Homo sapiens: one gene and its partners. The protein of the gene in region 7 purifies or fractionates together with the protein of the main gene of each other region. This does not show direct contact. Each region holds a gene or a part of one and is shown on either strand. Other genes may lie near its edges.

Region 1 (3,500 bases), on a different chromosome or scaffold from region 7:
TGCCTGAATTATATGGCTTCAGTAGTTCCAAGAACTATGTCACTTTGGTTTCTGAGAACTCAGTGGTGTAGATAATTTGCTGCAATGTTAATGACTGAATACAGCACTTTTTTTTCTTTTTTTTTTACTCTTAAGTTCAGGGGTACTTATGTGCAGGATGTGCAGGTTTGTTACATAGGTAAACATGTGTCATGGAGGTCTGTTGTACTTACTACTTCATCACCCAGGTATTAAGCCTAGTATCCATTAGTTATTTTTTCTGATCCTCTCCCTCTTTCCACCCTCCATCCTCTGATAGGCCCCAGTATGTATTGTTCCCTTCTATGTGTCCATGTGTTCTCATAATTTAGCTTTCACTTGTAAGTGAAAACATGCAGTATGTGGTTTTCTGTTCTTGCGTTAACTTGCTTAGAATAATGGCCTCCAGCTCCATCCATGTCCCTGCAAAGGACATAATCTTGTTCTTTTTGATGGTCACATAGTATTCTATGGTGTATATGTACCATATTTTCTTCATCCAGTCTGTCATTGATGGGCATTTGGGTTGATTTCATGTCTTTGCTATTGTGAAGAGTGCGAAAATGAACATACGCATGCATGTGTCTTTATAACAGAATGATTTATATTCCTTTGGGTACATACCAAGTAATGGAATTGCTGGGTTCAAAGGTATTTCTGACTTTAGGTCTTTGAGGACTCACCATGGTATCTTCCACAATGGTTGAACTAATTTACACTCCCACCAAGAGTGTATAAGTGTTCCTTTTTCTCCACAACCTTGCCAACATCTGTTAGTTTTTGACTTTTTAATAATAGCCATTCTTATTGGTGCGAGATGGTATCTCATTGTGGTTTTGATTTGCATTTCTCTAATGATCAGTGATGTTGAGCGTTTTTTTCATATGCTCTTTGGCCACATGTGTGTCTTCTTTTGAAAAGTGTCTGTTCCTGTCCTTGGCCTACTTTTTAATGGGGCTGTTTGTTTTTTTCTTGTAAATTTAAGTTCCTTATAAATGCTCCATATTAGACCTTTGCCAGATGCATAGTTTGCAAAAATTTTCTCCCATTCTGAATGTTGTCTGTTTACTCTCTTGATAGTTTCTTTTGCTGTGCAGGAGCTCTTTATTTCAATTAAATCCCATTTGACAATTTTTGCTTTTGTTGCTATTGCTTTTGGCATGTTCGTCATGAAAGCTTTGCCCATCCCTATGTCCCAAATAATATTGCCTAGGTTGTCTTCCAGGGTTTTTGTAGTTTGGGGTTTTACGTTTAAGTGTGTTGTTGTTGTTTTTTGTTTGTTTGTTTCTGTTATTTTTGAGATGGAGTCTCGTTCTGTTGCCCAGGCTGGAGTGCAGTGGTACGATCTCAGCTCACTGCAACCTCTGCCTCCCATGTTCAGGTGATTCTCCTGCCTCGGCCCCTCGGCCTCCCGAGTAGCTGGGATTACAGGCATAAGCCACGATGCCTGGCTAATTTTCTTTTCTTTTCTTTTCTTTTCTTTTTTTTTTTTTTTTTAGTAGAGACGGGTTTTGCCATGTTGACCAGACTGGTCTTCAACTCCTGACCTCAGGTGATCCACCCGCCTTGGCCTCCCAAAGTGCTGGTATTACAGGCGTGAGCCACCGCGCCAGGCCTACATTTAAGTCTTTAATCCATCTTGAGTTAATTTTTGTATATGATGTAAGAAAGGGGTCCAGTTTCAATTTTCTGCCTACGGCTAGCCAGTTTTCCCAGAACCATTTATGGAATAGAGAATCCTTTCCCTATTGCTTGCTTTTGTCACAGATCAGATAGTTGTAGGTGCGCAGCCTTATTTCTGAGTTCTCTATTCTGTTCCATTGGTCTATGCGTCTGTTCTTGTACCAGTACTATACTGTTTTGTCCTCCAGAGGGCAGCAGACATCGAACAGCAGGCTGTGTTTGCTGTGTTTGATGAGAACAAAAGCTGGTACCTTGAGGACAACATCAACAAGTTTTGTGAAAATCCTGATGAGGTGAAACGTGATGACCCCAAGTTTTATGAATCAAACATCATGAGCAGTAAGTCAGAGTACTATTTTTGTTCATCAGTTTTTCATTCCTGTGGTTGAAATATGACTGTGCCTAGAGTCAGAGACATGGATTAAAATCTACTCGCTAAGGGGCACCTCCAATCCTCACTTCCAGTCCAAAGACTTGGTGATGAAATCCGTGGGTGACATCATAGCAACATTTTTAAGCAAGAGGTCAAAGGCTCACATCCTTAGAAATGCGTTTGATCTTCTATTCCAAGCGTGTGTGTGTGTGTGTGTGTGTGTGTGTACACAGACATACTCTGCGTGGTGAGGAAAAGGGTGAGAGAGTAGGACTAATGGAAGGTGTTATAGTCCATGTCAATAGTATCCTAGACTGAGTTCAGGGTGAATATATGGCTAGGACAGAAAGAAGGCAAGTAATCCAAAGATGGATTGACACATCAAAGTAGAGCAAAATGAGTATAGGGACCCAAGAGTCTTGGAAAGGCATGCATGAAGACATTTCAAGTGATCAGTAAGATTTTCAGAACAAAAGGAATTCCCTGAATGAGGGTTCCGGCATTTGCTGCAGTTCTAAAGTTCAGTGGCCAAAAGCACTGCCATGGCAGTCTGAGAGAAATGTCACTGAGCCAGCTGGAAGCAAACTTCTCCACAACAGCCAGGGTCCCCCTACTGATCCTCAGAGTCTAGAGTCATGGTAATCACCTTCTCTAGTAGGTAATCACACATGTGAGGATGATTTCTGCATGTTCTGTTCATATAGCTTCAGATGACTGACAGCTAGGGATTATCAGAGCTGACAGGTGCCAGGTCAAATAATTCAAACAGAAAATTACTCTCAGCTTTCTTTGCATAACTTCCTTTTGGCAGTGAATCTATCATAGTTCTAGACCAGTGCTGTCCAATAGAAACTACGTATGAGCTACATGCGTAATTTAAAATTTTCTGATAGCAACATTAAAAAGTAAAGAGAAATAGGTGACATTAATTTTAGTAATATGTTTTACTTAACTCAGTATATCCTGAATATTATCATTTCAACATGTAACCAATATAAAAATTAATGAGACTTACTTTATTACTAAGTCTTTGAAATTCAATGTATATTTTATACTCACAGCATATCTCAGTCCAGTCTACCCATATTTCAAGTGCTCGATAACCACTTGTAGCCAGTGGCTACCATATTGAACAATGCAGTTATAGACCATTTAGAAAAACATCTAGAATGAGGTATAAACTAATAATACATCATGTAAATTATTAAAGTCACTTAAGTGATTTAAGTAGGTATTTAAATATTTGTTAATGCCAGTCATTATACTGGTACTAAGGCTAAGAGTGGTAATCGAGGTAGACATGAGCCCTGCCCTTGTAGAAATCATACCTTTGGTTTTTTACTATGCTTAGTACATAAGTAAATAAAAATATTGCCTACAGCAGTGTCCCTTTTAACAATAATGAAATGTATGAACTGGATACTCA
Region 2 (3,441 bases), on a different chromosome or scaffold from region 7:
TGTGGATGTGTGTTTGTATGTGCATACGTATGAGATAGGCACATGCATCTTCTGTATGGACAAAGGTGGGGTACCTACAGGAGAGCAAAGGTTAATTTTGTGCTTTTAGTAAAAACATTTAAATACAAAGTTCTTTATTGGGTGGAATTATATTTGATGCAAATATTTGATCACTTAAAACTTTTAAAACTTCTAGGTAATTTGCCACGCTTTTTGACTGCTCACCAATACCCTGTAAAAATACGTAATTCTTCCTGTTTGTGTAATAAGATATTCATATTTGTAGTTGCATTAATAATAGTTATTTCTTAGTCCATCAGATGTTCCCGTGTGCCTCTTTTATGCCAAATTGATTGTCATATTTCATGTTGGGACCAAGTAGTTTGCCCATGGCAAACCTAAATTTATGACCTGCTGAGGCCTCTCAGAAAACTGAGCATACTAGCAAGACAGCTCTTCTTGAAAAAAAAAATATGTATACACAAATATATACGTATATCTATATATACGTATGTATATACACACATGTATATTCTTCCTTGATTGTGTAGCTGTCCAAAATAATAACATATATAGAGGGAGCTGTATTCCTTTATACAAATCTGATGGCTCCTGCAGCACTTTTTCCTTCTGAAAATATTTACATTTTGCTAACCTAGTTTGTTACTTTAAAAATCAGTTTTGATGAAAGGAGGGAAAAGCAGATGGACTTGAAAAAGATCCAAGCTCCTATTAGAAAAGGTATGAAAATCTTTATAGTAAAATTTTTTATAAACTAAAGTTGTACCTTTTAATATGTAGTAAACTCTCATTTATTTGGGGTTCGCTCTTGGATCTCATCCATCCATTGTGTTCTCTTTAATGCTGCCTGCCTTTTGAGGCATTCACTGCCCTAGACAATGCCACCAGAGATAGTGGGGGAAATGCCAGATGAAACCAACTCTTGCTCTCACTAGTTGTCAGCTTCTCTGGATAAGTGACCACAGAAGCAGGAGTCCTCCTGCTTGGGCATCATTGGGCCAGTTCCTTCTCTTTAAATCAGATTTGTAATGGCTCCCAAATTCCATCACATCACATTTAAATTGCAGACAGTGTTTTGCACATCATGTATCTGTTTTGTCCCATAATATGCTTTTTACTCCCTGATCCCAGTTTCTGCTGTTGACTCTTCCATTCAGTTTTATTTATTGTGTGTTCTCACAGTGACACCATTTGTCCTTTTCTGCAACAACCTTTCCAGCTACTTTTGCCAAATTCTATTTGTCTTCTCCTTCAAAACATTCTCCTTTGCAGTTCCTCTTCATCTGTGTAGCTGCTCTTTTGTCTCTTAACTTACCATTCCTATAGTACTTTATGCATCTCTGCTTAGTTCTATTAGTTTTTTGGCCTTGCTCTTCTCCTTGATTTTAAAATTCCTTCTATAGCTAGAGCTTTTCTTTCTTTCATTCTCTCTTCCTGCAGTGTTTTGCATACATCAGAAGCTAGGTACATAAGTTAAATGATTGAGAGTTGGCTGTATTTAGATTTATCACTTTTTAATAGGGTGAGCTTGAGAGTTTTCTTTCTTTCTGTTTTTTTTTTTTGTTTTTTTTTTTTTTTTTTTTTTTTTTTTTTTTGACTAATTTCACATGCTCTAAAAACCTTCAAAGGTGATTATTTTTCTCCTGGAAACTCCAGGTCCATTCTGTTTAAATCCCTAAGAATGTCAGAATTAAAATAACAGGGCTATCCCGTAATTGGAAATATTTCTTTTTTCAGGATGCTATAGTCAATTTAGTAAGTGACCACCAAATTGTTATTTGCACTAACAAAGCTCAAAACACGATAAGTTTACTCCTCCATCTCAGTAATAAAAATTAAGCTGTAATCAACCTTCTAGGTTTCTCTTGTCTTAAAATGGGTATTCAAAAATGGGGATCTGTGGTGTATGTATGGAAACACATACTCCTTAATTTACCTGTTGTTGGAAACTGGAGAAATGATTGTCGGGCAACCGTTTATTTTTTATTGTATTTTATTTGGTTGAGGGATTTTTTTATAAACAGTTTTACTTGTGTCATATTTTAAAATTACTAACTGCCATCACCTGCTGGGGTCCTTTGTTAGGTCATTTTCAGTGACTAATAGGGATAATCCAGGTAACTTTGAAGAGATGAGCAGTGAGTGACCAGGCAGTTTTTCTGCCTTTAGCTTTGACAGTTCTTAATTAAGATCATTGAAGACCAGCTTTCTCATAAATTTCTCTTTTTGAAAAAAAGAAAGCATTTGTACTAAGCTCCTCTGTAAGACAACATCTTAAATCTTAAAAGTGTTGTTATCATGACTGGTGAGAGAAGAAAACATTTTGTTTTTATTAAATGGAGCATTATTTACAAAAAGCCATTGTTGAGAATTAGATCCCACATCGTATAAATATCTATTAACCATTCTAAATAAAGAGAACTCCAGTGTTGCTATGTGCAAGATCCTCTCTTGGAGCTTTTTTGCATAGCAATTAAAGGTGTGCTATTTGTCAGTAGCCATTTTTTTGCAGTGATTTGAAGACCAAAGTTGTTTTACAGCTGTGTTACCGTTAAAGGTTTTTTTTTTTATATGTATTAAATCAATTTATCACTGTTTAAAGCTTTGAATATCTGCAATCTTTGCCAAGGTACTTTTTTATTTAAAAAAAAACATAACTTTGTAAATATTACCCTGTAATATTATATATACTTAATAAAACATTTTAAGCTATTTTGTTGGGCTATTTCTATTGCTGCTACAGCAGACCACAAGCACATTTCTGAAAAATTTAATTTATTAATGTATTTTTAAGTTGCTTATATTCTAGGTAACAATGTAAAGAATGATTTAAAATATTAATTATGAATTTTTTGAGTATAATACCCAATAAGCTTTTAATTAGAGCAGAGTTTTAATTAAAAGTTTTAAATCAGTCCAATGTGTTTCATAATTATTTTTTAATTTTCTCCATGGTGCAGTGAAAACATCACATGAGAAAGCAGGAGACCTGGGTGCTAGTCCTGGCTACACTACCAGCTAGCAGAGGACCTGGGAAAGCTACTTCCCTGGATCTCAGTGTCCGTCTCTGCCTGTAGAATGAGATAAGTCTCTTCAAGACTGAAATGTATGGTTCTCCATTTTAATTATCAGTTAGGACTATTGATTACAAGTGAAAGAAAACTTAAATCTAAGAAAAATGGGATCTATTGGCTAACATAACCTGAAAATTCAGACACACAGCTGGATCCTGGGCCTCCAAAAAGTGTCATAAGGACACAATATCTTGCCAGTTCTCAGCTTCACTGTCCTTCGTGTGGCTTTACTCTCCCAGGTTCCTGTGATGGCAAATGGCAAGCTGCAATCCCAAACCCATTTTCTTCCAGGTTCAGGGAGAGTAGAGGGGTAAAAAAGAGCGCATGTCTCTCTCTTAATAGTCCT
Region 3 (3,500 bases), on a different chromosome or scaffold from region 7:
TCTTCCTCAGGCTAGATTCCTGTTAGATTCCAAAGAAAATTGTGCTGGAACTCAGAATTTTCCTGGCGGCTCTGCATCTCCTTGCTATGCATAGTATTTCTCATATGATTTGAAGAAAGCACTGTGGTTGTACGTTTCTTGAGTGCCTTATCAGAATTATCCTTCCAAAAAGCTCAAGAAAGACAAGCAGAAAATCCCCCAGAGAATGTCTAAGTGACAGTGCTCCATCTGAATATCCTTACAAATTGCTACAATGCAGGTTTACCTGGGGTGCAAGCACAGCAAACACGTGCTTGTAGTCCATTTGATTTTTTCTCCGATACATTTAGAAAGAAGTGCTTAGGCCGAGAGCCATAAAATAAAAACATACAATAAGTCCAAGTCTTTTCTGTATATGCTGTGATTTGATAATCATATTGATAAAACATGTGTAAAGGCCTTTATTGGAAGGCATGATTCTGATCCATTTTGCATTCTTCCAATTTTCATTTTTGCTATTATACCTAATTGTTTATCTATAACCTAGAGCATTCCAGCAAAAGCGGCCCTTTTAAAGCTAGAGGGAAAAAGGCCACACTGGTTTTCTTAAAGTAACTTCCAAGTATTTTCACTATAAATGAGAGAGAAAAGTTTCCAAATTGAAGAAGTACATAGCTCCCAGAAAGCACACTGAAAACTATGCAGAATAATTTTTGATCAGGCTGGAGGACTGTGCCAGGCTCCAAACAAGTGGTTATTCTGTTGTGACATCTGCCAGGCAATGCTTCCATTGTTCTCTGGAATTTAATTCATTTTAAATTACTCCATCCAAATGATAAAACATGAGATGTGCTATAATCCAGGGGTAAAATGCTATGATTGTTTTTAGTGTGGCCACAACTGTTTGCTGGGAGGAAATACAGCCTGTTCTAATTAAGCCCTGATTATTGTCTTCTGAAAAATAGCTAGTTCCAGAAATGTGAGTGAAATCCTGTTAAATGGAAGGGTTGGGATAAACACTCTTGGCCACTCTGGTATGACTTTAAAGTTGGGAGGGCCATATGCAAAGACTTCCTACAAAGTAGAGCAACAACCTTTGGAAAAGAAACTATTTTTGGAACTAAAAGCAGCTTGGGATACTGGTTTACTATAAGGTATAGTTTAATATGTGTATCAGTATAGTCAACACATCATTTTACTGTTCAAAGACTACCATGCAAATGCCTCCAAATCCAAAATATTCTGCCTAACAAATGCTGTCAAAGTTCCTAAATGGGAACACTGCCTTATGGAAGCATTAAAGATCAGGCACTGAATTAAAAAAACAAAAAAACCCACCACCAAGATGAATCTCAGAAGAAAACACACATGCACACATATAAGAATTCATATCTCTTGTATGCCAAATATTTAATATAAATCTTTGAAACAAGTTCAGATGAAATAAAAATCAAAGTTTGCAAAAACGTGAAGATTAACTTAATTGTCAAATATTCCTCATTGCCCCAAATCAGTATTTTTTTTATTTCTATGCAAAAGTATGCCTTCAAACTGCTTAAATGATATATGATATGATACACAAACCAGTTTTCAAATAGTAAAGCCAGTCATCTTGCAATTGTAAGAAATAGGTAAAAGATTATAAGACACCTTACACACACACACACACACACACACACGTGTGCACGCCAATGACAAAAAACAATTTGGCCTCTCCTAAAATAAGAACATGAAGACCCTTAATTGCTGCCAGGAGGGAACACTGTGTCACCCCTCCCTACAATCCAGGTAGTTTCCTTTAATCCAATAGCAAATCTGGGCATATTTGAGAGGAGTGATTCTGACAGCCACGTTGAAATCCTGTGGGGAACCATTCATGTCCACCCACTGGTGCCCTGAAAAAATGCCAATAATTTTTCGCTCCCACTTCTGCTGCTGTCTCTTCCACATCCTCACATAGACCCCAGACCCGCTGGCCCCTGGCTGGGCATCGCATTGCTGGTAGAGCAAGTCATAGGTCTCGTCTTTGACGTCACAGAAGCGATACACCAAATTGCCTGGTCGGTCATTGTCATAACCAGAGAAGTGAATTCTGCCCCCTGGCAGCTGCTTAGCAGGAGGGCTCACCCCAATCTTCATAAATTTTCTCTTGTGGGGCTTTTTGAGTTCCAGGAGGGCATAATCATAATCCATGCCGATGTCATTGGCATTGCCCTTGATCCAACCCTTGGGCACATGGGTGCGTTTCACCCGGATCCACTGAAATTTCATCTGCTCGGGCATGGCTGAAGTGGAGTCGTTGGCCCCTCGACCACCATCTTTAAACTTGGGCTTTAGGAAGCCCACTCGAAGCTTCTGGGTTCCTTTCACATAGGTTTTTCCATCGTGTATGCAGTGGGCAGCTGTGAGGACATGCTTCTCTGCCACCAGGGTGCCGGTGCAGCCCGTGGATAACTTCACTGATGTTGAGAAAGGGTAGTTGAGCAGGAAGTCCTTCCCAAAAATGCTGAACCTGCTGTCATAGCCATAAATCTGCCGCTTCCTTCGAGACTTTCCTGAAGACCCTGAGTCTCGGTGTTGGGCCCCATCTCCACTACTGCTGAGGATGTAGATGCCCACCTGCGTCTCTGTGCGGCTGCCATTGGCATAGAGCGTTTCATAAGACAGATATTGCTTGGCCTCTTCGTAAGTGGGCAGTGGAGTTCCCTTATGACACTGGGGTCCACATGAAGAAGATACTTCTAATTTGGCTTCGGCTCCAAAGTCTGGCTTGGCTAAATTGAGGGTAGACTGGGGCAAGACGACAGGGAGGCGGTATGCAGGCCAAGTGGGTTTCCAGGGGGCACTGTAAGGGCTCACTTGCCCAACAGCACAGAGCAGAAAGAAGAGAAGGAAGAGGAGCCCTGGAATCCCTGCCATGCCGAGCACTGTTCTGTAGAAACAAAGACAAGCAGGTCAGGAGGGCAAGGGCTGAACGTTCATTTACTGCAGACAGCAAAGCTCAGCAGCAGGCCTGTCATTGTTTCTGAGTCTTTGAACACTCCTCAGGAATCAGGGTGTGGAGAGGAATCCTTAGATAACGGTCTCACTTTCAACGCAAAGGCTCAACCTTAGGAAAGTTCCTGTGGCTGGGTGCCTGAAGTGAAATTGGGTGTTCCTTCCTTTCTATGTTTAAGATGTCCCTAATGATGGTAGACTGCAGAGTAGCAGGCATAAAGTCATTAGTCCCCTGGCTAACTGACTGACCAGCCCCAATTTCCACGTAATTTTGAGCCCTCTTTGTGCTTGATTCTAAACCTCCTCCTCTTCTACCTTCATGATGTCCCCGCCTTTCCCTCCTCCTTCTCTCATTCTCATTGTAACATGTACTTGGAAAATTTTCAGAGCAACTTGGTCACTCAGAGGGTCAATTTAAATTACATGGCTTACTGAGTGACTGAGACATCAAAGAAGGACAGCTCCACAGTGTCACAATTACCACCACTCCTGTGGTTTTTAAATGATGGTGCACTCGAGAAAGG
Region 4 (2,178 bases), on a different chromosome or scaffold from region 7:
CTGGAGCCTTGGCTGCTGACCTGCTCCTGGATGGCCTGGACTTCGGCTTCCACCTTGCGTTCCCGCTCATCCAGGGACGTGTTGGCAGCCAAGAAGGCATCAGAGTACTGGCTGACAGAGTCACTGAGGCCTGTGAGCGACTTGCTCACTGAGTTCAGATTGACCTTGAGCAGAGTGATCTCGCCTTGAAGTGAGCTGCCCGTCCCTTCTGCCAGCTGTCCCTGGACCTCGGCCACAGTGCCATTGAGCTGCTGGAGCAGTGCTGCGTGGCTGGCCACCTGGCGTAGGAGGGCCTCGCTCCGGCTCTGCCAGGCCTTCACCTCTGCCACGAGGCTGTCCAGGATGGCTGAGGTGGTGCTCGGGGTGCACGAAGTCTCCAGTGAGACCAACCGTTGCTCTAGCACAGCCAGCTCTGTCTGTACAAGGGGCCGAGCTGACCTGCCCGGAGAGGCGCTGTCATGGCTTAGCTCCCCAGCCAATGTTGCTAGGCGCTCCTCGAGGCTCTGCACGCGCTCTTCCAGCATGGTCCCAAAGCCGCCCACTCCCCACCCCCCCATGTCCAACCTCAGACAGCATCCCCTTGCTCCACCCTCTGTCCCATTGAGCGTCTCCAGACCCTCAAGCAGCCCGTCCACACCTCCCTCGAGCATGGCAGCAGAGAGCCTCGTAAGCTCATCCCCGGCCGGGGCACCGGGGCCCCTTTGGGTCTCGGTGACTGCCTGCAGGGCCCTCTCAAGGCCATCCATACGGGCATTGATCAAGGCTAGTTGCCCACAGCAGCTGCCCCTGCCAGACACGCTCAGGCCCTGCAGCTGGCTGCCCAGCTGTGACAGCTCCTGGCGCAGGGCCAGCTCCCGGCCATCAAGGCTCTGGTGCAGCCTCCGGCTGGCGGCCTGACCCTCCTCACATTGCCGCCGTACCTCCTGCACCCGCAGGTCACACTCACTCTGGACGCCTTGCAGCTTCTGCTCAAAGCCATCCAGCAGGCTCCCCCAGAGTCGGTGCAGCCGTCGGTCCACGTACTCCTCCAGCAGGGCCAGGGAGGTGAGCGGGGATGGTGGGGCTTCCCGCAGCCGCTGCAGGTGGGCCTCATGGCCAAGTGCCAGCCCATGCACCTTGTCTAGAAGCTGCACCTTGGTCTGAAGAGTGTTGCTCACCTCTGTCACCTTGCTTAGGATCTCGTCTAAGGGAGGTGTTAGTGGCCCTCTGGCTCTGTCTCCTGGGCCCACAAGCCCCTCAGGGATGACCCCAAAGCCCACAGGGACAGCAGGAGCCCTGGGGCCACCAGTCATCCTGTTGGGATCCTCGTGGCTAGCCACCAGGCCACTGAGGGTACCATATGTTTGAGCCAGGCGCTGGACATCACCCTCCAGGCGTTCCAGCCGCTCACCAAACAGCCCTGGGCCTTTCCTTCCTGGGAAAGAGAAGAGAGCCCCAGGGGCATCACTGGCCTCACCCTCTCAGCTTGTCACAATGCCAGGCCACCCAAGAGACTTTCTGTTCTTTTTTTTTTTTTTTGAGACAGAGTCTTGCTCAGTCGCCCAGGCTGGAGTGCAGTGGTGTGCTCTTGGCTCACTGCAAGCTCCGCCTTCCGGGTTCATGCCATTCTCCTGCCTCAGCCTCCCAAGCAGCTGGGACTACAGGCACCCACCACCACGCCCGGCTATTTTTTTTCTATCTTTAGTAGAGATGGGGTTTCACGATGTTAGCCAGGATGGTCTCGATCTCCTAACCTCGTGATCCACCCGCCTCGGCCTCCCAAAGTGCTGGGATTACAGGCATGAGCCACCGCGCCCAGCCCAGACTTTCTGTTCTAAGCCTACCTTCTCACTGGGCATAACTCCCTCAGCTTTATGGTGGGGTGAAAGTGGGGCTTGGGGCTTGCCCCTCCCCATCCATGCCGGAGCTCAGCCAGCCTGGGATCAGTCCCCTCCCTGCCCCTGCCACTGAGCCCAAGAAACCCAATCACCTTGGAGGGTCTCCTTGGGCAGACTCACCATGAGGGCTGGGGGCTGCTCTGCTGTAGGAAGGGGGCCTGGGGCCTGGGTCCAGCTGCCCTGAAGGAATCTGAGGCTCAGGCTCCAGCTGGGGTGAGGCAGCCCCATGGTCCGTGAGGTGCTCAGGGCAGCGTTTCCCAGTGAAGCCGGGACAGCAACGCCAGGCGAGGTCTGTCACTGT
Region 5 (3,233 bases), on a different chromosome or scaffold from region 7:
GTTGGGAACCAGGTACCAAGTGCCTTACGGCCCCTGCAGGTATGTCCTGAGCCCAACCAGGATTGTTTGGAAGATTTTAAGCCGAGGGTGAGAGGTAGGATGGATTCAGATTTGGGGACCTGAGTGGGGAACCTGATCAGATTTGCTTTTTGGAAAGTGACTGTGACAGATACGTGAGCCATGGGCAAGTCTTCAACCTGAGCCTCAGTTTCCTCATTTCTCAAGCAGGAACAATAGATGTGCGTGAAGACTGGAAGCGATAATGTATGTGAAAAGTGGTATATGTCAACTATTATTACATGACTTTGAGTCACGAATGAGCTAACATGCTTACGTTCTCAAGAAGAGATCAGTTTCGTCATCTGCTTGGTATTGTTTCTTGATTTATACAGCTGTTTCCTCAAGCATTTTTCTTTAAATGGGAGCAGCTATTACTATTTTTTGTCTGTTTCAGCTTCAACTCTGTTACAAATTGGAAGGAACGAGTTGTTGAACATTGATCGTAGAAAAGGAAAAGAAAGTTTTTATTTTTTGCCTTGTTGTGCATTCATTCTTTCAAAAGCTGTTTAGAGGAAAAAACATTTTCTATCTTCTCATAGTAGTAAGTAGCAACTCAGGTGCCTGAAGACCCCATCATATTTTACTAAAACTCTCCACTCCAAAAGAGCATCAGTTGTGTGTAGGTGAATAGAAAGCTGGTGTGTAGGCCGGGCACGGTGGCTCACACCTGTAATCCCAGCACTTTGGGAGGCCAAGGCGGGTGGATCACCTGAGGTCAGGAGTTTGAGACCAGCCTGGCCAAAATGGCGAAACCGTGTCTCTACTAAAAACACAAAAATTAGCCTGGCATGGTGGCACGCACCTGTAGTCCCTAAGCTACTGCAGAGGCTGAGGCGGGAGAGTCGCTTGAACCTGGGAGGCAGAGATTGCAGTGAGCCGAGATCGCGCCACCGCACTCCAGCCTGGGTGACAGAGCGAGACTCTGTCTTAAAAACAAAAACAAACAAAAAAGAAACCTGGTATGTAAGTAGCTAAATATAGAGACGTATAGGAGGCATCTTGTAATGTGTGATTATTCATTTGATTTTATTCAGTGTGCTATTAAGAAGGGCCCTTCCTTCTAAAGAAAATTAGAACATTTTCAAAGCTTGCGTCTGAATCCTGTCTCACTACTCAGTAATGGAGTGACCCAGGAAACCGCATCACCTCCCCAAGCCCCAGTCCCTGTGAAATGGGGAGTGTAGTAAGACCTGCTTCCTAGGGCTGTTGGGAGGATCAGGTGAGACAATCTGATTGAAGGACTTGGACCAGTGCCTGATAAATAATAAGCACTTGGTAAGTTATTATTAGGGCTGGGAGAGCAATAACTTCAGCTGCGAAAGCTAATACTAGTCTATCCTGATGACGGCATCAGATACTTATTTTCAAGTTTCTTCTGAAGACAAATTTTAATTGACACTTGAAAACCAGGAAGAGCATGAAAAAGAGGACTCAGTGTAGCCTCTAAAGGCTGTTGAGCCTGAAGAGGTGTTGGAATGCCGTGCCCGCCTTGTGGTGCAGGCTTCAGCAGTTTAGGCCCAGAGGACTGTGGGTCCCACCTGCCTGACAGCAGGGCACACAGGTGCTGAGCAGTTGGCCATTACTGGGCTGTGAAAACAGCATGAATGGGGAATGGAGACTGTGGGCAAAGCAGTACAGTCCACTTGTTCGCAGGTGGGAAAGTCAAACTCTGTCTTTATTCTTTTTTTTTTTTCTTTTTGAGATGAGTCTCGCTCTGTCGCCCAGGCTGGAGTGCAGTGGCGCGATCTCGGCTCACTGCAAGCTCCGCTTCCTGGGTTCACGCCATTCTCCTGCCTCAGCCTCCCGAGTAGCTGGGACTACAGGCGCCCGCCACCGCGCCCGGCTAATTTTTTTTTTGTATTTTTAGTAGAGACGGGGTTTCACCGTGTTAGCCAGGATGGTCTCGATCTCCTGACCTTGTGATCCGTCCGCCTCGGCCTCCCAAAGTGCTGGGATTACAGGCGTGAGCCACCGCGCCCGGCTGTCTTTATTCTTTTACCATTTTATTTGGGATAAGTAGCAGCACTGCCTGGGAAGACCCTTGGGAGGGAGAAGGAATCTGTTGGATGGAAATCTTACCTTTGAGCATCAGTTATATTTAATGCCTAGTTTCAGCCCTTTTCATATTAGACTTTCCAACAGCAAGTCAAGGAAAGTCAAGGAGCGAAAGGAAGATGGGCTCAGAGGAAAGGTTTTTTTTTTTTTTTTTTTTTTGAGATGGAGTCTTGCTCTGTCACCGAGGCTGGAGTGCAGTGGTGCGATCTTGGCTCACTGCAATCTCTGCCTCCTGGGCTCAAGCGATTCTCCTGCCTCAGCCTCCTGAGTAGCTGGGATTACAGGCATGTGCCACTACACCCGGCTAATTTTCTTATTTTTAGTAGAGATGGGGTTTTGCCACGTTGGCCAGGCTGGTCTCGAACTCCTGACCTCAAGTCATCTGCCTGCCTCGGCCTCCCAAAGTGCTGGGATTACAGGCATGAGCCACTGCGCCCGGCTGGAAAGGTTCTTTTAAGAGTTCCACAAAGTGGCCAAAAGTTTATTCTTGCATTTTATCATGCGTATGCCTTGGAGTTATGTTTTTGGAATATGACTTAAGAAAACAAACTTTCCAGGTAACACGTAGCCGGTTCCCATCTTTCTAGCATCTCTGCCTTTGGCTGATGTGACGCCATACGTTCCTGACAGTTAATGTTGGCTCTGTAGGGATCTGATGCCAAGTACAGTCATAGCTCAGCCATGACACAGGGCCTTCCAGATAGGCCAGATTCAGTGCCCTTCCCAACAGATGCCTCTCCATCCCCCACACCTCCCGACTCCACCAAAATGAAGTGGAAGCACGTCTTGAGTTGCCCATTTCTTCTGTGTCTGGTCAGGCACACGTCAAGAATGTTGGCTGGTGATGGGCTCAAGGCAGGCACAGCCCGCTTCACTGTGCATGTGTGCAGGCTTGATTGACACTGGCAAAATCTGCAAGGATATTTCTAGACATTCCAAGTGATTGGTTCCTCTGAGGAAATGAAACATTAAAAAAAAAAAAAAAAAAAAATATATATATATATATATATATACACATGTATATTTAATTATTTTTTTAAAGCCACAATTGAAAAAATTCTTTGCCACTGGGTAGAATTAAATCTGACAGGAAACCCTAGGAGTTTTTATTAGTACCA
Region 6 (3,500 bases), on a different chromosome or scaffold from region 7:
TGTGTCAGTAGTGCAAGGCCCCGCCTCCATCAGATACCCAGGGGGGCGGATGAAAGGGCAAACTTCGCTGGGGAACACAGGCTCCTCTGTGCACAATTCAAGCCTAGTCAATAGCAACCCGGGCATGGAATGTGCTCCGTGGGGTGTGCTGAGTGTACTCCTACACAAAAGGCATTCTCCAAAGATAACCTACCTGGGTTGAAATAAAAAATAATATTTAATAAATCCTGGTCTCCCCACGTGATGGCATTCTTGTACTTCTGGTACAGAGGGTACAACATGTCCTCCCAAGCCAGGCCTGTTGGAATCATGCTGTTCTGGAAAAAAGAAAACCATCAGAACAGCTGAAGCAAAGCAAATACATTTTGTCCACTGAGAAACAATGTAAAGGGACTAGTTTTCTTCCCTTCAGAGGAGGGAAACAAATACAGGAGGGGTCCTGCTATTCTCAGGTCACAGAACAAAGCAAAATTTGGGCTGTTGATTGTATCGCTTTTTTCAGCTGTACACACGGATACTAGATAGACCAGGGACTGAAAGTTGAACCTATGGTTTCTACTCAGAAAACCATGCCTGGAATTGAACCCCTTCCTTTCTTCTCTTCCCTCCCTCCCTCCCTCCCTTCCTTCCTGTGTTTTTGTTTTTGTTTTTGTTTTGAGACAGAGTCTTGCTCTGTCGCCCAGGCTGGCATGCAGTGGCACAATCTTGGCTTACTGCAACCTCCACCTCCCGGGTTCAAGCGATTCTCGTGCCTCAGCCTCCCAGGCAGCTGAGACTACGGGTGCACGCCATCACGCCCGGCTAACTTTTTGTATTTTTAGTAGAGATGGGGTTTCCCCCTGTTGGCGAGGCTGATATCAAACTCCTGACCTCGAGTGACCCACCTCCCTCCCAAAGTGCTGGGATTATAGGCGTGAGTCCCCACACCTAAGAGGCGAAGTCTTTCTCAACAGCAGTCTCTACTTCAGGATTCTCTACTCTACTTCACCTTTCTTAGGTGAACATCTTTCTTAGGCTTATTTCCTCACTGTGAGGTGAAGGAACAAAATACAGATAACAGAGTTCAGGTATCTTAAGGAAAAACACCTTTCCTTGTCTTAAACAATGATTTACTTTTAAAATAAAAGTAACATATTCACAGACTGAATTATTCAAACAGCACACAAAAATATAAAATAAAAAAGTAAAAATATTCTTCTTCCATATCCCATTCCCATTTTCCCCAGACGTATCCACAGTTAACAATTAATGGTCTCTTAGGTATTCTTCTGGACATGTCTTTTTCTTTCTTTCTTTCTTTTTTTAGAGACAGGGTCTCACTCTGTTGTTTAGGGTGAAGTGCAGTGGCTATAATGCAGCCTCGACCTCCTGGGCTCAAGCGATCCTCCCATCTCAGCCTCCCAAGTAGCTGAGACTACAGCCACGTGACACCATGCCCCATTAATTCTTCTGGAAATTTCTAAGGCATACAAATAATCACAGTCTCTGTCGCCAGGCTGGAGTACAGTGGCGTGATCTTGGCTCACTGCAACCTCTGCTGTTCGGGTTCACACGATTCTCCTGCCTTAGGCTCCTGAATAGCTAGGACTACAGGTGTGCGCCATCATTCCTGGCTAATTTTTGTGTTTTTAATAGAGACAGGGTTTCGCCATGTTGGTCAGGCTGGTCTCAAACTCCTGGCCTCAAGTGATCCACCTGCCTTGGTCTTCCAAAGTGCTGGGATTACAAGTGTGAGCCACCACCCCTGGCCAGGAGGATAATTTTTTTTGACTAGTTCTCTACTGATGTTCTTTTAGCTTCTTTCCACTTCTTTGCTAGGATAAAAGATGAGATCACGAACATCCTTATACAAATATCGTCACGGACTTACATAAATAATCCCTAGGGTAATTTGAAGAAATTTTACATAGTCTTTGAAGCATTGGGTATGAAGCGTTCAAACATTATGGAATTCAGAAATGCAACATAGTATTCCTGAATGGCGACTTTGCTGAAGCTTTAAATTCCATTGCCATCTGAGCTTTTCCTGAATAAACAAATATTCTATAATTTTCTAAATACTTTTCTCTGGTTCCTTTTATCCTCACCTATAGGCCACCCAATTTCCAAAATCAGCATATTGACACTCTGGTAGTGCCACTGTTGACAAGACCAACTCCCAGTCTTTAAACAAGGAATTTTAAAGCACTCGTTTACCTTGAACTGGGTACTTCTTATCCGAGTTAAATTCATTAACATGACTCCTGAATTAACTCCTGCAGAGCCATAGAAAGGATGCCTAGCAAAGCGGCTGTACCAGCCAATCTTGGGGATTTCGTGCTCAGGGGCCATGGCTGCAAGCTGGGTGGAATTAAACAGCCTCAGAAGCTTCCAGATGTCATCAACAGGTCTCAGAAAGAGGACATCGGTGTCCACGTAGAGAAGTGAGTCCACATCCTTTAAAATCACCTTTGTGTGTAAGGAGTGGGTGTAAAGGGGAGAGGAGGGAAGAAAACAAAACAAAAACAGGTCAGAAACAAAGGAAGTAGCCTGATAGGTAAATAATGCTACCAACTTTTGTTGATTCGTATTAAATTCTGGAAAGGTACCACTCTTAGCTTCCATTCCTTCCTTCTCCTTTGACTTGAGGAATGAGTGTCAATCAAGAGGTAGAGACTTAAAAGAAGATAAATCTTGGTCTGGATTAGCCCAATTCTGGGACCCTGGACTATATTTGATAAGGGTTGAACTTACAAAAAAAAGAAAACATCAGCAAATTATTGTGGCTCTCACTTCTTCCATCTTCCAATAAGGCCACTTGTTTTTCTCTCTTAGGTTTTCCTTGGAACATCCAGTGTGGCATTAGAAAACCTGAAGTGGACAATCTCTATTTATTTATTTATTTATTTATTTATTTATTTATTTATTTTTGAGATGGAGTCTCACTCTGTCGCCCAGGCTGGAGTGCAGTGGCCTGATCTTGGCTTACTGCAACCTGAAGTGGACAATCTCTAAAGCAGCTCATACCAAGCCTTGGGGGTAAATACTCTCCATCTTTGGATCCATTTCTTCTAGTGTTAATGGGGGGCCCTGCATCTTTTAAAATATATATAAATATATATAAATACAAATACACACACACACACACACACACACACACACACACAGGCTGGGAGCAGTGGCCTGTAATTCCAGCACTTTGGGAGGCCAAGGCAGGCGGATCACGAGGTCAAGAGATCGAGACCATCCTGGCCAACATGTTGAAACCCTGTCTCTACTAAAAATACAAAAATTAGCTGGGCGTGGTGGTGTGCGCCTGTAGTCCCACCTACTCAGGAGGCTGAGGCAGAAGAATCGCTTGAACCCGGGGAGGGGGCGGAGGTTCCAGTGAACCAAGATAGCACCACTACACTCTAGCCTGGCAACAGAGCAAGACTCCATTTCAAAATAAAAAATTAAAAAAATATATAGTTTGCAGATGAGGGTCTTGCTCTGTTGTCCGGGTTGCAGTGCAGTGGCAT
Region 7 (4,103 bases):
GCTGGGATTACAGGTGACTGCCACCATGCCTGGCTAATTTTCATATCTTTAGTAGAGATGGGGTTTGACGATGTTGGTCAGGCTGGTCTTGAACTCCTGACCCTAAGTGATCCGCCCGCCTTGGCCTCCCAAAGTGCTGGGATTACAGGCGTGAGCCACCGTGCCCAGCTTCAGGAGCCTTATATGTGGAAGAGGAAGACAGGTGGTGAGCATCAGAAGTGGCAGCAGGAGGACTCTACCAACAACGCTGGATTTTAATATAGAGAAGGGCTTGACCTAAGAAAAGCCCAGAAGCTAGCAAAGGCAAGAAAAGGGAGTCTCCCCTAGACCCCCAGAAAGGAATGCAGCCCCACTGAAAACTCGATTTTAGACCAGTGAGCCGGCATTATAGACTTCTGACTTAACGGAACTGTAAGATAATACATTTGTGTCACTTAAAGACACTAAGTTTGTGGTAATTTGTTACAACAGCAATAGAAAACTAATATTCCATCACACAGAAAATGTGCTCACATCAAACTCTGCAAAAGTTCCTGAGTGATCCAAGCCCCTGAACCCTAGCCCTGTCTAAGAACCTCTCAACTAGAGGCCCTGGGAATTTGGTGCCTGTCAGTGGGCTTGGCCTGCTTCTCAATCAGCCAAGCTTTTGCCAGTTTGCCTGCTGGGCGGGGCTCTGACCCCTCCTGGCCGTTGCTCCTTCCAGTCTCTCTACCTAGCAGGGATCCCTAGCACCCCCTACTCCTACTCACCTTTCAAGATGTGGCTTTCTGGCTGGCCCGGTGGTTCACACCTGTAATCCCAGCACTTTGGGAGGCTGAGGCGGCTGGATCACCTGAGGTCAGGAGTTCCAGACCAGCCTGGCCAACATGATGAAACCCCCTGTCTACCAAAAATACAAAAACTAGCCAGGCATGGTGGCCGGCGCCTGTAATCCCAGCTACTCGGGAGGAGGCTGAGGCAGGAGAATCGCTTGAATCCAGGAGGCGAAGGTTGCAGTGAGCCGAGATTGTGCCATTGCACTCCAGCCTGGGTGACAAGCGCAAAACTTATTTCTTAAAAAAAAAAGAAAGAAAAAAGAAAAAAAGAAAAAAATTGGCTATCTCTTGCCCCAAATTCACCAACTACTCCCTCCAGTCTCCTTATCCAGGACAGTCTGTATCTTTTGTGGGCTCTTTCTTCTGTGTCAAGCTCCCCCTCCCCCACACCACAAAATAACCAGCCGCACATACTACTGGCACATCTACCCTGTGGTCCCACTCACTATCTACTGAATGGATGAGTGTTTGGGGCTAAATGTTCCTCAGTGTGGTGGAAAGAAAGCAGCAGCCTGGACCTTCCAGAAAGTCCTTGGCAGTGCAGGGATGGGGGGATCTGGGCTGCCACCCCTGCCACCTGATCCTGAATGACTTCCCCTCATCTGGAGTTCCTTCCACTGCTACTTCTCAAAGGTGCTGCGCATGCTAAGAGGGAATTTGAAAGTTCGGGAGTGCGGGTAGGGGAGGATGAGAAGGGGAGTGGCTTTACTCTTTTTTTTTTGAGACGGAGTTTCTCTCTTGTTGCCCAGGCTGGAGTACAATGGCATGATCTCGGCCCACTGCAACCTCCGCTTCTCGGGTTCAAGCGACTCTCCTGTCTCAGCCTCCTGAGTAGCTGGGATTACAGGTGAATGCCACCATGCCAGGCTAATTTTTGTATTTTTAGTAGAGACGGGGTTTCATCATATTGGTCAGGCTGGTCTCGAACTCCTGACCTCAGGTGATCCGCCCGCCTCGGCTTCCCAAAGTGCTGGGATTACAGGCGTGAGACACGGCAACAATGTGAATTACAGTTACGTAGACAGGAATGTTATTGATTGTAAGCCCGAGAGGCCAGATCGGGTTGGGGATCGGGATGGCCAACTGGGTCCCTTAGTCGGTCAGCTGCCCAGCGGTCCAGGGCTGGGCGGGTGTGGGGGTTTCGGCTACGTCCACCCGACCTGGCGGCGTCGGCTGCCGGCGCAGGTGAGCACTCACCCGTAAGCGTTACGGCCCGGGGCAGCTTCTCGTCGCCGTCCAACCCCGCGCGGGGCAACAGCGCCGCATCCTCCTTCTCCAGCCCCAGCTCCTTGCAGCGGCAGCACGTGGGGGAGCCCGGGGAGCCGGCGCTTCCTTCCGCGGGGCTGGCCCGGCCCTCTGCGTCGCAGCCGCTCTCCGTCCGGGCTGCAGCCAGCGGCGAGCGGCGGCCCCACGTGCCGCCCTGGGATGGTGCGCGCAGCAGGAGCTGGTGCGCCGGGTCCGCGTGGCGGGAGAAGGCAGGGGACTCGGGCACCGGCACCTTGAGGAAGCGCGTGGAGGGCCTGGGCGATGGCGTGCTGCTGCCACCGGCCGCGCCCACGGGCTTCACGCGCACATCTACCTGCAGCTCCATGGGCGCCCAGGCGCTGGGCGCAGGCTCAGCCCCGGGCGCCTCGCCATTCCGGGGCAGCTTGACCAAGGCAGGGCCCGGTGACGGCGGCTCGGGGCAGACCCCGTAGCCCAGGCTGAGCGGCGGCACGCGCGGGGACCCGGGGCGAGGCGAAGGCGGCTTTTTCTTGCTCGAGGGCTCCAGGCCTGCGCCCGCCGCCTTCTCCACGGCCCCGGCCGGACTTGGGCTGCTTTCGGGACCTTCAGGTTGTCGCACCTTCGCGGGCACCTGCGGCTGCTCCAGCGTGGGGACCAGGCTTCCCACGGGCTCCATTGGGAGCTCTGCCCCGGCTTGGCCTCCGGGCGCAGCCTCCCAAGACTCCTCCATCCCGCGCGCCCCGCCACCCGGAGACGCTGAGGAGCGCACCTGGGCCCAGTGCAGAGGAGCTTCGCTCTCCTCCGTCCGGATTGGTCCAGCCGCGTCGCCGAAGTTGTCAGGCCACGCCCCTCCCCGAAGGACCCCGCTGTGATTGGCTGTGGCTGAGGTTCTGCTGCCCCGACCCCCTTCGGGACACAGCCCCGGCCTCCACCAGGCACTGGGAGGGAGCTGAGAACGGCAGCGGGGCCAGGCGAGGGTTGCAGGGTGGGCGGGAGCTCTCGGGAGAAAAGCAGAACACCAGCGGAGGCTTGTGGCAGGGAACCCGGAGCCCCGCCTGACCCTTCCCTCTTCTTTGTCTCTGACCTCACCCATTTTCCCCTCCAGCCCTATGCCGGGGTGTTGGTTTTGAGAGTTACAGTTTGGGCGGGGAAGGATTGGCCAAGCCTGTCTGGATCCTGGGACCTCAGAGAAATCAGAATCCAAAGGAATTGGGGCGACCTGTGGAAAAGTAGCCCAGTTGGTTGTCCTGACAATCCAGCAGGGTTTCGAAAGGACTCTCCATCATACTTGGGAGGACTCCCCCACTGAGTAACGCTAAGAGAAAAGAAACAGGGCGTGGATAAGCAATTCTTCTTTTTTTTTTTTTTTTTGAGACGGAGTCTTGCTCTGTCGCCAGGCTGGAGTGCAGTGGCCCGATCTCGGCTCACTGCAATCTCCGCCTCCCAGGTTCAAGCGATTCTCCTGCCTCAGCCTCGTGAGTAGCTGGGACTACAGGCACCCACCCCACCACGCCCGGCTAATTTTTGTATTTTTAGTAGAGACGGGGTTTCACCATGTTGGCCAGGATGGTCTCGATCTCCTGACCTCGTGATCTGCCCGCCTCGGCCTCCCAAAGTGCTGGGGTTACAGGCGTGAGCCACCGCGCCCCGCCTGGCCTCTGGTATTTTTAAGTGCCCCCAGGGTAGGGTTGGCAGATAAAATGCAGGCCACTCAGTTTAATTTGAATTTCAGTTAAACAAGGGATAGTTTTTAGCATAGTAGTCCTCCCTTATCCACTGGGATAGTTCCAAGACCTCCCAGTGAATGCCTGAAACTTTGGATAGCACCAAACCCTATATATACTGTTTTTTTCTATACAAGCGGTCTTCAAAAGGTTCATGGAAAATTCATACTATGAAAAAAACTATGCATGGATTTGAAAATTTTTTGGCACCAAAATAAATTTGTACTAACTTGTTATCACATGTCTCGACAAGATCTAGTTTGAGGCACTAAGAAGGATAAGACATCAGTTTGAAAAGAGCTCCTGTCAGAGCAACAAGGATTCTGCTAAATTTGAAGCA

Evidence for each region.
Region 1: the proteins of KLRG2 (region 7) and F5 purify together in Homo sapiens (affinity purification with mass spectrometry; 2 studies listed by BioGRID and IntAct, with this or other methods). This does not show direct contact.
Region 2: the proteins of KLRG2 (region 7) and CD47 purify together in Homo sapiens (affinity purification with mass spectrometry; 2 studies listed by BioGRID and IntAct, with this or other methods). This does not show direct contact.
Region 3: the proteins of KLRG2 (region 7) and PRSS23 purify together in Homo sapiens (affinity purification with mass spectrometry; 2 studies listed by BioGRID and IntAct, with this or other methods). This does not show direct contact.
Region 4: the proteins of KLRG2 (region 7) and EMILIN3 purify together in Homo sapiens (affinity purification with mass spectrometry; 2 studies listed by BioGRID and IntAct, with this or other methods). This does not show direct contact.
Region 5: the proteins of KLRG2 (region 7) and COLEC12 purify together in Homo sapiens (affinity purification with mass spectrometry; 2 studies listed by BioGRID and IntAct, with this or other methods). This does not show direct contact.
Region 6: the proteins of KLRG2 (region 7) and GXYLT2 purify together in Homo sapiens (affinity purification with mass spectrometry; 2 studies listed by BioGRID and IntAct, with this or other methods). This does not show direct contact.

What each region holds. Positions count from the first base shown.
Region 1 is NC_000001.11:169,544,982-169,548,481, reverse strand, and holds part of F5 (coagulation factor V preproprotein), read left to right. Parts: intron 1-1,889; coding exon 1,890-2,040; intron 2,041-3,500. UniProt on the Homo sapiens protein: Central regulator of hemostasis. It serves as a critical cofactor for the prothrombinase activity of factor Xa that results in the activation of prothrombin to thrombin.
Region 2 is NC_000003.12:108,042,591-108,046,031, reverse strand, and holds the end of CD47 (leukocyte surface antigen CD47 isoform 1 precursor), read left to right. Parts: 3' UTR 1-2,941; downstream 2,942-3,441. UniProt on the Homo sapiens protein: Adhesive protein that mediates cell-to-cell interactions. Acts as a receptor for thrombospondin THBS1 and as modulator of integrin signaling through the activation of heterotrimeric G proteins.
Region 3 is NC_000011.10:86,807,042-86,810,541, reverse strand, and holds part of PRSS23 (serine protease 23 precursor), read right to left. Parts: intron 2,912-3,500; 5' UTR 2,899-2,911; coding exon 1,747-2,898; 3' UTR 1-1,746.
Region 4 is NC_000020.11:41,361,641-41,363,818, forward strand, and holds part of EMILIN3 (EMILIN-3 precursor), read right to left. Parts: coding exon 1,998-2,178; intron 1,415-1,997; coding exon 1-1,414.
Region 5 is NC_000018.10:316,237-319,469, forward strand, and holds the end of COLEC12 (collectin-12), read right to left. Parts: 3' UTR 501-3,233; downstream 1-500. UniProt on the Homo sapiens protein: Scavenger receptor that displays several functions associated with host defense. Promotes binding and phagocytosis of Gram-positive, Gram-negative bacteria and yeast.
Region 6 is NC_000003.12:72,954,046-72,957,545, reverse strand, and holds part of GXYLT2 (glucoside xylosyltransferase 2 precursor), read right to left. Parts: intron 2,449-3,500; coding exon 2,197-2,448; intron 318-2,196; coding exon 194-317; intron 1-193.
Region 7 is NC_000007.14:139,480,874-139,484,976, forward strand, and holds the start of KLRG2 (killer cell lectin-like receptor subfamily G member 2), read right to left. Parts: upstream 2,801-4,103; 5' UTR 2,770-2,800; coding exon 2,013-2,769; intron 1-2,012.